3 separate regions of the Homo sapiens genome follow, and all the other regions are linked to region 2. Evidence: fine-mapped expression QTL. A gene starts in region 2. Each other region holds a variant in brackets. All regions are shown on one strand. Distances are between the middles of the regions.

Region 1 (4,171 bases), 47 kb before region 2:
GGGTGGGGTTAAAGGAACTCCTGAACTGGTGGCAGCTAAGTAGTTATTCGGAGAATACTTCCGGTTCCAATGGCCCATGGAATTGACATTTGTGGCTGATACTGTTATGTTGGTTTACTGTAGTGTCAGCTGTGCAGTGCTTTAGAACAGGGCTTGGCAACCCTTTTCTGTCCAGGACCAGTTAAGAAATCCTTGTGCCTTTGTGTATATAGTTTGCTGCAGCTCCCCGGCTCTGGCATTTCAGTGCAAAAACAGTCTTAGCCTGCTACGTACATAAACGAGAGTGGCTGTGCCCCAATAAAACTTACAAAAATGCAGTGGGCCAGATTTGGCCCTTGGACCATCATAGTTTGCCAGCCCTTCGTTTGGTCCCCTTAGTGTAGACTGTAAGACTAGACTGTCTTGTTCCAAATCCTCATTCTGCCACTTAACCTCTGGGCCTCTTTTTTTTTTTTTCCCTCTGTAAAAAGGCCCACTTGGAGTGTCAGGAGTTAATGCACTCAGAATCTAACTTCTAGCCTATGGTTTAGTGTTTTGTCCTTATGAGTAACCGCCAAAGCCTACAGTAACAAATATTTTTTTGTTGTGTGGTGTCCAGCCCTTCACTAGATGTTAGGGACACGAAGACACAGACCCTGGGAAAATCAAGCCATGATTTGCCATGTTCTCATGCCCCATGTCTCAGTGTGAATGGGTGAGCACGGGGAGTCATTCATCACAATACTGTAAAAATCAAAATAGGTACAAAAGAATAAGTATGTGTGGCCAGCTTCAGAGCCAGCTTTACTTGGGGATTAAAGTCATTTGCAATCCAGTGATCCCCACTGTCTTCACAGGGAGGGCTCTAGTTCTCAGCCGGCTCTCAGACTTAGGACACACAAACCACATTCCAGTTTTCCCTTAGAAAACTTCTCCTGTTCCAGCAGTTATGGTCGTGGTTCCTGGGGAAGCAAATGCTGGCTGCTGTTGTTCTCCTCTCCCTTCCCCCCGCATGCTGCTGCTTGACTTGTTTGGCTTGTTGTTCAAGAGGAAGAGGAGACTGTGAGAGCCCTGGCTGGGGCTGGCCTGGGTTCTTCCCCTGCTGTTTACTCTGCAGGGCGATGGCTTCAGATCTGAGTGCTGCAGAGGAGTTTGCTAGACAACAGCAAATACCCTTAAGAAGAGGGCCACAAGAGTTTCAGCCAGGGATCTGACAGTGGTGCTGGGCGCCGCTGCTAGCCAGGCAGCCTCACGGACGCCACCCAGGCCTCTCCATCCTGTCCCGGAGCCCACTGGGTCTGCTACTCGGCAATCCCAAATTTCAGAAACTATATTTTCTTTCTTTAAGAACCCTGAAAGCCTATACCTCTCAAAGCCTCTTTTGGGCCTGTGCATTCTGCAGATGCACTTTCAACTGCTCACAGGTCCGTAGAAAGGGCCCCAGCTCAGTGTCCAGTGTGTCCTGTTATCTAGGAATCAGTCTGGCCCCAGGAAAAGCCACTTTTCAGGACGTGGTCCTCAACTGCAGCTGATGTCTAGAGAGGAGACGTCTCACTGTGATGCAGACCTGGCATCAGCCGTGCTGGCAGGTGTCACTGTCCTCCCAGTTGCCACCATCACCAGGTACAGCAGCTTCAGCAGTGTGGTACAGCCTCCCGGGGGCTGGGGCAGTGACACCGCAACCTCTCCTCCTGTTCTCCACCCCTCCCACCTCCCTTCTTACAGGGAACGGGGCTGAGCCTTCCAGGTTCAGGGCCAAGGGCCTCACGCTGAACCAGTCCCAACCCTTGCAAATGGGCTGTGACACTGAACCTGCTGACCGTCAGGTCAGAAAAGAACCACCACCACGAGCTAGAAGATACGGGTCGTCATTCTCCAGAATACAGAAGAGGGTACACGCGCCAAA[G/AG]CACTTCCCATGAGCATTTTTATTAAATTGAAACAAGTTGTTGATTCGATAATTACAAGACTTGTACAAAAATTCACAGCGCCTGTGAGGAGCCTTTGGCTGGAACTGGTGACACCTGTGCCTCTCCGGACAGAGGAAGGAAGTCCCACCCCGCCTTCCAGCAGCAGCGAGCCTGTGTCTGGCATTCCCTGTTCCGCTGCTCCCACCCTCACTGTGGGGCAGCAGTTCTTTAGGAACATTCAGCTGTCAAAGGTGAGAACCAGCCCCACAGGCCTGGGCCTCGCAGGCTTAAGGAGCACTTGTTGGCACTGTTAGCTCAGCACCTCTCCCAGCTCCAGCCCATCGGCTGGAGAGGAAAAGGGCAGAAAACACAAATCTCACTCTAGAAACACATACACACACCTACTACACAGATGATAAAATCCCACAATCGTATCTGTTCATGTTTCTGGGTTTTGCACTGAACAGAGATTGGAAGGGAGTAAGGACTCTCTCCCTTCTGCTTAACATTCACATCAGGAAAAAGAAGAAAACAAAGTTGCCCTTTCATCTTCATCTGCTTATTTCAGAGGACACACGGAGGCAGACTGACCGAGCAGTGGGGCTTCATCTTCATTCTTGCACTTCTCACCCTACAACCATTTAGCAACAGAAACCGTGGAAAGCGCTGGCTACGGGGCTCCAGGCAGCCACCCCCCTTATTGGGCAAAGGAGTTAAAAAGAGCATCACCACGACCTCGCTACTGGTTTTTGGCCTGTCTGAGGGAGAGAGTTCCCGCGGAGCCGGCCTGGGCGTGGCCCGCAGCCCTACTGCTGGGCCTGCCTCTTGCAGTAGTTGCTGTAGGCCTCCTCGAACATGGCCTTGCAGGGGAAGCGGGCCTTCAGCTTGGAGCAGATGAGGAAGGAGCCCCCCATCTTCCTGTGCAGGGAGTAGGTTTCCTCGGGTGGGGGGACGAGACGGTGCCTCAGCATGACGGGAATCAGGTTGTGGATCTTCTCGGTGGTGCTCTGAGTGCCAAAATCAAAAGGCTCATCAGAGGCGAAGGCCTCCCCCAGGATGAGGATGGCATCCAAGTGGGCGTCTTCCATGACCTGGGGCAAGAGAGGAAGGATAAATGGCGGCGAGACACCAGAGCCCTCCACCAGCCCGGGTTCCTCCCACAGTGCCCGGGGCGCTGAGTTCTCATTCAAAGCTCTGCTGTAAACTGGATTACATCATGGTAATGGGCATAAACTCAAACCCACAGGGGCCGGGAACACGAGGGTAACATGGACTGGGCTGATGTGATACAAAAGGGAGTGGCGGGGCCTGTGGCAGAGTGCAGAGGATGCGTCCCGCCTCGTGGCACTCATACAGAGTTTTAACAAAACACTGTTCTGGCCAAAAAGAACAGAGTCCGTGGGCCTAAGCTGGCAGGGCCTCCCACCATGCGTGTCTGAGCCTGCCAGAGTCCACCCAAGACACACCCAGCAGCCGTGTGTCTGCCCACGGGAACTAGCAACCTAAGGAAGCCGCCGCCAGCAGAGCAGGGGAGAGGAGCTGCCGCCAGGGACAGCCCAAGGTGGTCAGAGGGACGGGGCGGCCAGGAATCGAGTCAGTGCGAGTGGCCATAAGGAAGAGGCGGGAGAGAGCTGCTGCCCGCTGAGCGCTTACAGCTGAGATAAGGGGGGCTCAGAGATACTGACAAGCCTCAAATGACACTCCTATGAGACGGCAGACCCAAGGCTTGACCTGGATTTCTTTAACTCCTTCCCCACTGTCAAGCAGCAAGCGGAAAATGCCACTTTGTGGGTGGCTTCAGGCGGCACCAGCACAGACCGTTCCCCTTTATTTAAAAGGCTTCTAAGGTTTCTTCCAACTCCCCCCAGGGAGGCTCGATGAGGGGAGGGCTGGGGCTTCCCTTCCCACTTGCTCTGCACGTTGGCTCAATCGAGGCCCAACCCCAAGCCCTAAGTGGGCAAGAGTGAGAGGCAGAAACAAGAGCTTCACGACAAGTCCCCAACTCACTGGCCCACTCGGAAAATCTCACGCTCAGCAGGGCAGCATGGGCCGGGGTGGGCCCCAGCTTTCAGACCGTGCCCAAGGAGGCCCGGGCTCTGGGGGCCCCTTGAGGGCAGCTGCCCCCTGTGCTTTCATCCATTCTTACACAGGGAGCCGGGCCCTGGGTCAGCAGGCCCAGGGGATCCCCCGCAACCCTGCTCACCTTGACCTCGTAGCCGGTGAGGAACTTCATCTCTATGGATTTCGCCCGCACAGTCTCCCTGTCCCTGTCGGCAGCAGCCCTG
Region 2 (4,171 bases):
ACAACGAAGAATTATGGGTCCAAAATGTCATTAGTCCACAGGTTGAAAAACTTTGTCTTAGATAACACACTGGCTCTGAGGGAGGTGCCCATTCTGCCTGGTTCACTTTTCCTTTGAGTTGCTCAACATTAGGCCCCAAATCATTACGATTCTGCATAGTCCGCACCATTTGCAAGGCTGAACAAAACACTCTAAGCCATTGCCTGAGCCTTTTTTTTTTTTTTTTGAGATTGAGTCTCGCTCTGTTGCCCAGAGGGGAGTGCACTGGCGCCATCTTGGCTCACTGCAACCTCTGCCTCCCAGGTTCAAGCAATTCTCCCACCTCAGCCTCCTGAGTAGCTGGGATTATAGGCGCCCGCCACCACATCCGGCTAATTTTCGTATTTTTTTTTTTTCGGTAGAGACGGGGTTTCACCATTTTGGCCAGGCTGGTCTCGAACTCCTGACCTACGGTGATCCACCCGCCTCGGACTCCCAAAGTGCTGGGATTACAGGCGTGAGCCACCGCACCCAGCCGCCTGAGTCTTACAGATGCTGCTCCTGTAGCTCCCCTTTTGTCTCTCCTCGGGAGAAAGGCCTTCCTCCAAAAGAAGAGTCTCCCAAGAGCCCTCCTGCCAGGATGACCTACCCATCCACAGCGTGACAACTGGCAGGCTGGCATCAAGGAATGTTCAAATCCTTTGGCAATCAGGTAGGCCTGGCATGACCAGCTACTCAATCCTGTCACGTAGATCCAAGGCCCAAGTGAACGTGCACAAGTTTTTCAACAGGCTGTAGGCCCGACTCAGGCTGGAAGACTGCACACAAGCCTCTCACCCTTCAGGAACCTGACATCTCTCACCCAAATGGGGAGTCCCAACACCCAAACCTGCCCCTGCAGCACTCCCCATCGCCCAAAGAGGGTTTGGCAGAGGGGCTGTTACCTCTGTGCAATGGGTGAGAATGAGCCTCGGAAAGGTTCGAGTTTAGGGGAGTAAGCCCAAACCACTCACAAGACCCCCCAGAGTTTGGAGAAGAGGAAAGGCCAAAGAAAAGCGAAAGGAAGAAAGGATCAAAAAGGATCCCCTGTCCCAAGTTCACACAAAATTCCCACCTGCGAAGCCCAACAGCTGGCTCCAGCCAAGGAAGTCAAAGTTCTCACCCAAACCTGCAGCCAGCGGCAACGAGCCTAGAGCCCCAGACACACAGTGCAAGGGGGTCTGGGAGTGAAGAACAACATTATTAGAAAGCGAAGCATCAAAGCTGTATTGGCGACCAAAGGGCATGGGCAACGGGCATTCGGCAGCGGGAAGGCGGTCGGGCAAGCAGCGGGCGTGTTCCAGGGACCCAAGGCTCTGCACGTGGCCCTCGTCTCCTCCCCGAAGCAGGAACGAGGGGCTGAGGTGGACCCAGGGACGTGAGACGGCTGCAGAGGACCCACCCTGCAACTGAGGCGCCCCCACTGCGTCCGGACCTGAGGCTCGCGGCCAGCGAAACTCGCGGGGAAGCTGCGCTGTCACATGAAGAGAATGCAAGAAGGGCTGAGGTGGGTGTTGACCCCAGCTCTGGCCGCAGCCAGACGGCGCCTGGGCACGCGGCGGGCCGGCGGGTGGCAGCCTTACCTGGCTGCAGGAAGCTGGGATCCGCGGTCACCTTCTAGCCGCCTCCGCGCCCGCCTCTGCGCGCTGGCCACCGCGCTGACGCCCGCCACGCGCTCCGGATCTGTTTACCAACTCGCCCGCTCCGGGGGAGCCCCAGCTCACAAGCCCCGCCCCGCGGGCCGCTCCCATTGGCTGCACCGCCGTCCGCCTGCCGAATGCCGCTCTGCGCGTGGGAGCGTGCTCGGCCCGTGCTCCCGGCCCGTAGCCAATCGCGACCGAGAGCGGAGCAAGAGGAGCCAATGGGAGGCTACCTTAGCGGACAGGGCCCTCCTGTTCTCCTTTTCCCCACCTCCCGGCTACCTTTCTCTCTAGCAAACCGGGGCTGGAGGCCTGGCTTTGGAGTTGCTGGCCTGCGCGCATGCGCCTTGAGAACGGGAGCCTTTTTCACTGCGATGCAGTGTGCGTGGCCGCAAAGGCACCCCTGCGTGCTTGTTGCCTCCAGACTGGTGCTTGCTGGGCCTCTGCGCGGGCCTGGGAGGGGAGGCTGTGGACCAAGCAGACGCGACTGCGGGGCGTGGAGGGTGCCGCCGCTTTAAGGACCGGGCGATGCCTGTTCTTTGCTCCTCTCTATGTAGCAAGAGCCCCTTGCCCAGGGTCCACAAAAAGCACTCCGAGGAGGGGAAACGCGGCGGGCAAGGCCGCGCACTTCCACTTCCGGCCCTTCGGCCGGGGCCCTTCAGGCTAAGGATGCTTGTTTTGTGTGGCGCCATCCTCAAAACAGGAAGCCTCTGCCACCCGCGCCCCGAGGGTAGAGAGATAGTACCCTCACCGGAGTCGCTGTCCGCCCGCCGGTCTCGTCGGCGTGCAGGTGCCCGCAGTCGCTGACAGCCGGGGTTTTGGAGGGCGCGCAGCCAACACGGGATGGAGCTCGGGTGCAGCCCTCGGCGTCCCCGCCGAGCAGCCCTGGGAGGCACCGCCACCAGCAGCACGCAGATTTGCCCCGTCACTCCCTCCTTAACGAGAAAAGGAACGTATGAGCCAAAGTCGGCTCGACAATTTCCACTCAGATGACCCCAAACACTGGTCTGCAGCTCTGTTAATCGTTCTTGTGGAAAAAAGAAATAACAATTTAGTTTTTCATGAAATGAAATACTCAAGCCAAAGGATTGTTCCTTATTCTGAGCCTCCCCCCGCTTTTTTTTTTTTTTTTTTTTTGGTATTGTGAAACGAAAATTCACTCTGCCAAAAGGAAAAAAAATTAAACTGAAAGCTGAGTCATGCAACTGCCTTTCCTTTTGTTCCTAAGCAGATAGCTACAGATTAAAGGTGAAGTATCTCCACTCTATGTTCACCTTATCTTGTGTAAAGTGCCGATTTACTGAGCGCCAAATACATAACTGTTGCCCTACCTGCTCCCTTTATCGCAACATGTGGCTTCAATAATGTGAACATACCTTCCATCTTCCCCCTCCAGCCTGCTTTTCCCCTTTAAATATTGAAGCCCTCAAAATCATCTTTGGAGAAAGGCACAGACCTGTCTTCTGGGCGCGAGTCCTTCACCTTCGCAACATAAATTTCTAAACTGATACAGGTACTTTTCGGTTCACAAATATTGACATTTAACTTAATTGAAAGTCGTTTGTTTTATATTATCACTTGGAAAAATTTAAAGTTAGCTGTTCTATGTTGATGCCTAAAATTGGGGATAGGGGCCTGCTTTATTATAATGAAATCCAGAAGTGAACCTAATTTCACAGTCCCCCATCGGCTCCCCAGAGATCTGCCTGAGTTCCCAAGAACAGAATTCTAAGTGTGTGTGATATGGGCGAACACAAGCTCTGTGTCAGGCTCCGTTCTTCCTAGGGGTAGGGGAGGCCTTTCTTCCAAGGAGAATGGAGACTGTGCCTTGTGGCGTCTGTGGCTGGGCACTGGTCGGCTGTTGGGTGCTCCTCTCTGCACATTCACATGCCCTCCCCGCAGTCCATGTTCTGCCTCCCCCATCTCCACCACACTAAATACAAAGTAAATTTTAAAGGACAATTAAGGAGTTATTTTGGCTAAAGTTTCAAGTAACTGCCCCAAACAGTTGACAACTTGCCTTGATTAGGTCAGCTGGCTCCCTTTCTCCACATAGGAGAAAAAGACCAAGCCTCAAGGCCTTTCAAGGGTGGCCGTTGCTTCCTCCTACAGTAACTGTTCCCTTACACGGTTATGCTGTTCCCTCCCTGTTTCCTCCAAGCTCTCCCAGCCTACTGACCCAGACCACAGTCCATGGAATAAGAGAGTTCCTGGTTCGTTACTTCCTGAATCTTACGAACTCTAGCCCATCAGATTTCAGCTGGATGAGAATGTGATTGTCATCAACTCCTGCTTCTGCTAAGTGGGGGAAGGATGTGGTGCTTCAGTTTCACAAACATGGGGCAGGAATTGGTGGCTTCCATGCTAGCTCAGTCCCACTCCACCAGCAATGCCAAGGCCAGCTTCTCTCCTAAAGTACCTTGAAGACAAGCATAACCCACCACCACAAACATTAGTTTTTCTTCAAGGACTGCCAGTCTGATTTACTAGAGAAATGACCTCCAGCTAGTCTA
Region 3 (4,171 bases), 36 kb before region 2:
GGATGTAAAAAGGTGCGTGGGTGTGTGGAGGGTAAGATGTGTGGGTGTTTGGTGGGTGTGCAGGGGGTGTGTGACGTGTGCGGGTGTTCGGTGGGTGTGCAGGGGTAAGGTGTGCGGGTGTTCGGTGGGTGTGCAAGGGGTGTGTAAGGTCTGTGGGTGTTCGGTGGGTGTGCAGGAGGTATAAGGAGGTGTGTGGGTGTTCAGTGGGTGTGCAAGGGGTATGTAAGGTGCGGGTGTTTGGTGGGTGGGCAAGGGGTGTGTAAGGTGTGCGCGTGTTCGCTGGGTGTGGAAGGGGTAAGGTCTGCGGGTGTTCGGTGGGTGTGCAGGGGTTGTGTGTGGGTGTTCAGTGGGTGTGCAGGGGGTGTGTAAGGTGTCCAGGTGTGCAGAAGGCGTGTGGATGTGCAGGCAGCCAAAAAGAAGGGGCTGGGTGGCCACTTTGGGCTGGGAGGAGGAAGGGCCTCCAGCCTCACCCCCTCTAAAGCAGGTCAATCTGTCTGTATGAACAGCCTCATCACCCCAGGGACGCCACTTACGTGGAACCCCATGCAAATGCGGCCCAGCTGGCTGACACTCCCAGAGCACAGGTGGGGCTGGGGGCTGACAGGCTCAACCCTCCCGGGGCCCACCCTGCCCCTCCCACTGAAGGGCCCGGCTCACCTGAGGGGTCCTCGGAGCGCAGGCTCTTCTTGGCGACCTCTGCCAGTGCCCCGAAGCCCAGGCCCACGGCCAGACCTGCAAGGAGGAGGGGGCGGGCACTCAGTGCTCACGCAGGGCTGGGGCCACCCGCTCGCCCACCCACAAGGCCTGGGGCAGCACCACACAGACACCGCTTGCACCAGGGGCCCTCGCTGCCACACCAGCATTTTGAAAAGTGGGGAACAAGGTGGGAGATGCCACCTGTTGTTTTAAGAGAACATTTGGCTCGAGGTAGGTGTTTCAGTGAAAAAGATTCAGGAATCCCCCACTCCACACCATCACCTTTGATAATTCACAGGCTCACGGGCACACGGACACCCCAAAGTAATGCCAGCTGGGAAGCACCTGGGAAGGACCCAGCACAAATGGGAAGACGGACCAGGGATGGTCCACAGACCAACGTCACCCCGACCACACAGGGCACCCTGAGAACACAACCACCCGCTTCAGGTCTGTCTGAAGAGCCTCCCATCACCTAGACTTCCCTAATTCACTGGAACAGGAAAGGTGTTGCCACAGGCATACAAAGCACTTGGTGGTGAGAGTGAGAACACTTTTGGCTCCCCCTAATCCAAGCCAGGGGAACTCGCGGGGCTCAGGCGCAGCCCTCGCTGGGTAATGGAAGGCCCTCTCGCCCACCTTGCCCTTTCTGCGGGGCTGGCAAACACTGACATCTGAGGACCGTGGGGTGCCAGGCCTTCCCATTATCCTCTTTCACAATCTTCCGAATCAAGGTCCACTAACACCTCATTTATCCAAAAATCAGTCAATGAATGATCCCAGCTGCTCAAGAAAGCCACTCCCCACCCCTGCCCAGGAGCCCAGAAGGTGCCACTAATGCCACACCTCACCCAGGGCCAGTATTCTCTTCCTTTATACCCAGCTGTAGCTGGCTTTCCGGGTAGGCATGGGTGAGCAGAAAGAGGGTGAAGAGCACCTGGCTGGGCACGGTGACCATGGCCGGCAGGGCTGAGACCAGAGCGGCCGCACGATGAGCCGGCCTCGGAGAGCCCCGCACCCCGCACCCGGGCAACATCGCAGCCCCGCAGCCCCGCAGCCCCGAAGCCAGGCAACATCGCAGTCCCACAGCCCCGCAGTCCCACAGCCCCGCAGCCAGGCAACATCGCAGTCCCACAGCCCCGCAGTCCCGCAGCCCCGCAGCCCGGCAACATCGCAGTCCCACAGCCCCGCAGTCCCGCAGCCCTGCAGCCCCGCAGCCAGGCAACATCGCAGTCCCACAGCCCCGCAGTCCCACAGCCCCGCAGCCAGGCAACATCGCAGTCCCACAGCCCCGCAGTCCCGCAGCCCCGCAGCCAGGCAACATCGCAGTCCCACAGCCCCGCAGTCCCGCAGCCCCACAGCCAGGCAACATCGCAGTCCCACAGCCCCGCAGTCAGACAACATCGCAGCGCCACAGCCCCACTGCCC[G/T]GCAGCCAGGCAACATCGCAGCAGGGGGCTGTTGGGGGAGAGGGCTCACACCAGGACGCTCTGTTTAAGGCGCAAGGAAACTGGCATCTGCTTGCATGTTTCCAAATTCTCTACAGTGATTATGCATGACTTTTATGAAAAATACAGAACTTGTTGAAAATTTAATGAAAAGTACATTTTAAAACTAAAAAGAAGACAACTCAATTTTTAAAAAAATGTTTTTGCGATACATTTTTACCCACACCTGGGCAACAGTGCACCCTCCACGTCCCCAGCAGTCTGGGCAGCCCCTGCCTCACAGGCTGTCGTGCGGGCGTGAGTAGAGCACTCGCCGGGCCAGGAACACACAAAGGCCACACAAGCAGCTGCTGTTGTTCTCGTGACTCTATTCAAAAAGGCTGGGCCGGCGCAGAACAAAAGAAATAGAAGGCAAGCCACACATATAATTGTTACTTTTCTAGCAGCCACACTGAAAAAGGCAAGAAGAAACATGCAAAATGAATTCTAATAGTATAATTTACTTAATATACCCAAAATGTTATCATTTCAACAAGTAATCAAAATAAATATTATTAGAGATATTTTGCACTTGTGTGTGTGCACAAAGTCTCCAAACACCATGTGTGTTTTATACTCAGCACATCCCACTGTGGACCAGCCGCATTTCCAAGGCCCCGTGCGGCTGGCGGCTCCGTACTGGGCAGCATGGGGCAGGATAAGCTGAGCCTCCTGGCCCTCAGGAGTGACAACACACATGGTACAGATGTCTGCTGTGTTGGGATGGGGGTGCCTGGCAGGTACATCAGCTCTTTCTCTCGCTGTAGAAAGCCCTGGGCTCAGAGCTGGGAGACACAGTCCCCGTTTAAACATTAACTCCCTGATGCCTGCCCACCTCTGCCCTGCCAGCACTCGAGCACACGATCTGACTTAGCGAAATAAACGGAGACAGGCAACATTAGCCTGTGCACTGCAGTGACCTTCACCAATGTCTCTCTGTGTCTGGATTCTTCTCTGCCTGAAGCAAGTCCAGAGACAAGCCCACGAGAGGGGCAGGTGGATCCACAGGTTACCGGAGATGCCACAGCTGTAGGGTGGGCCACATTGAGCTCCTCCTTCTGCAGGCAGAGGTGTGTCCCCCTCATCACCCTCCATCAGGACCCCCCTCAAACTGTTCTCTGGCCACTTTCAGGCACACAGCTCTCCACTGGCAAGGACCTGTTATTAAACAAATGACCAAAAGAACATTCCACAGAGGAGGCCTCAGGCCCCACACGTCCCTCAGGACCGACCAGCCCAGTGCCAGGCCAAGGCGCTGCCCACTGACAGACAGGCAGGCTCCCCAGGGGACAGAAACCAGCCCAGCTGGCCAGCAACCCTGACCTTGGCCTCACGAGCTCCTGCACCAGTGAACCCAGAATAAACTGAGGCCCTCCCGCCCCAGACTCAGCGCATTGCTCAGGAACCCAGGCCAGCCTCTGCCCTCCATTAGAACCAGCCAGCACTGGAGGCAACTCCAGAAGATGAGCACCTCAGCCGGCACTCCCCGGGTCCTCGTGGGACCCCACTCGGCACCCCCACAGCCCTCAGGACACCTCACACCTCTCCCTGCTCAGATCCACATTCTAAGAGCGCCCCCGGCTTGGCCCACGTGGCCAGCAAGGTCGTCCTGGAGGAAAACCAGCCCCAGCACAAGCTCCAGGCTCTAAAGCCACTGTGAGCAGCCTTGCTTCCCTCCTGGCCTGTTCCAGGAAAGCTTCTGACATGTTTCTCCGAGAGAAGTTATGCAATGAAGGAATGACAGGGGAGGGAGGGGCAGGCTCTCCCCCAGGCAGGAACACAGGCTGCAGGCCAACCTCCTATGACTTCTGGAGCCCAGTCCCCCACAAGGCCCCATCCTCCCAAAAGTCCCTCTAGGAGGTCATCAGAGCCAAACAGGGCCCTCCTGTGGGCAGTCACTCGGCTTCTGCCCAGATGGACACCAGGAGGTTAAAAAAAGCAAAACATCAAACAACTTCCAACAAACAGGGCCCTTCCTAGCAGGCTGGGT

Which allele goes with the higher level. Alleles are on the strand shown, and positions count from the first base shown. SD is a standard deviation of normalised expression in the study named. Not every link is listed here.
For the expression in neutrophils of the gene that starts at base 1,707 in region 2, allele AG in region 1 goes with a higher level than allele G (large effect, 1.1 SD a copy in CEDAR).

What was found. PIP is the estimated chance that this variant, and not a neighbour inherited with it, causes the effect.
Region 1: its variant is the best candidate, but not a certain one, in a credible set for the expression of COQ8A in neutrophils (CEDAR, PIP 0.66).
Region 3: its variant is the best candidate, but not a certain one, in a credible set for the expression of COQ8A in whole blood (TOPMed, PIP 0.51).

The regions. Positions count from the first base shown.
Region 1 is chr1:226,985,259-226,989,429 of GRCh38, reverse strand. It overlaps COQ8A (coenzyme Q8A), which reads right to left. Exons shown (of 15, transcript NM_020247.5): 14 at 4,090-4,171; 15 at 1,886-2,977. The coding sequence ends at 2,693. Among named protein-coding and RNA genes, the nearest start is that of COQ8A, 47 kb to the right of the region's middle. The variant G/AG (reference allele first, on the strand shown) is at 1,886.
Region 2 is chr1:226,937,830-226,942,000 of GRCh38, reverse strand. It overlaps COQ8A (coenzyme Q8A), which reads right to left and starts at 1,707. Exons shown (of 15, transcript NM_020247.5): 1 at 1,602-1,707. RefSeq lists silencers at 1,482-1,641, 1,692-2,001 and enhancers at 2,272-2,371, 2,562-2,611, 2,346-3,037.
Region 3 is chr1:226,974,010-226,978,180 of GRCh38, reverse strand. COQ8A (coenzyme Q8A) reads right to left here. Exons shown (of 15, transcript NM_020247.5): 5 at 658-732. Among named protein-coding and RNA genes, the nearest start is that of COQ8A, 36 kb to the right of the region's middle. RefSeq lists an enhancer at 3,740-4,171. The variant G/T (reference allele first, on the strand shown) is at 2,125.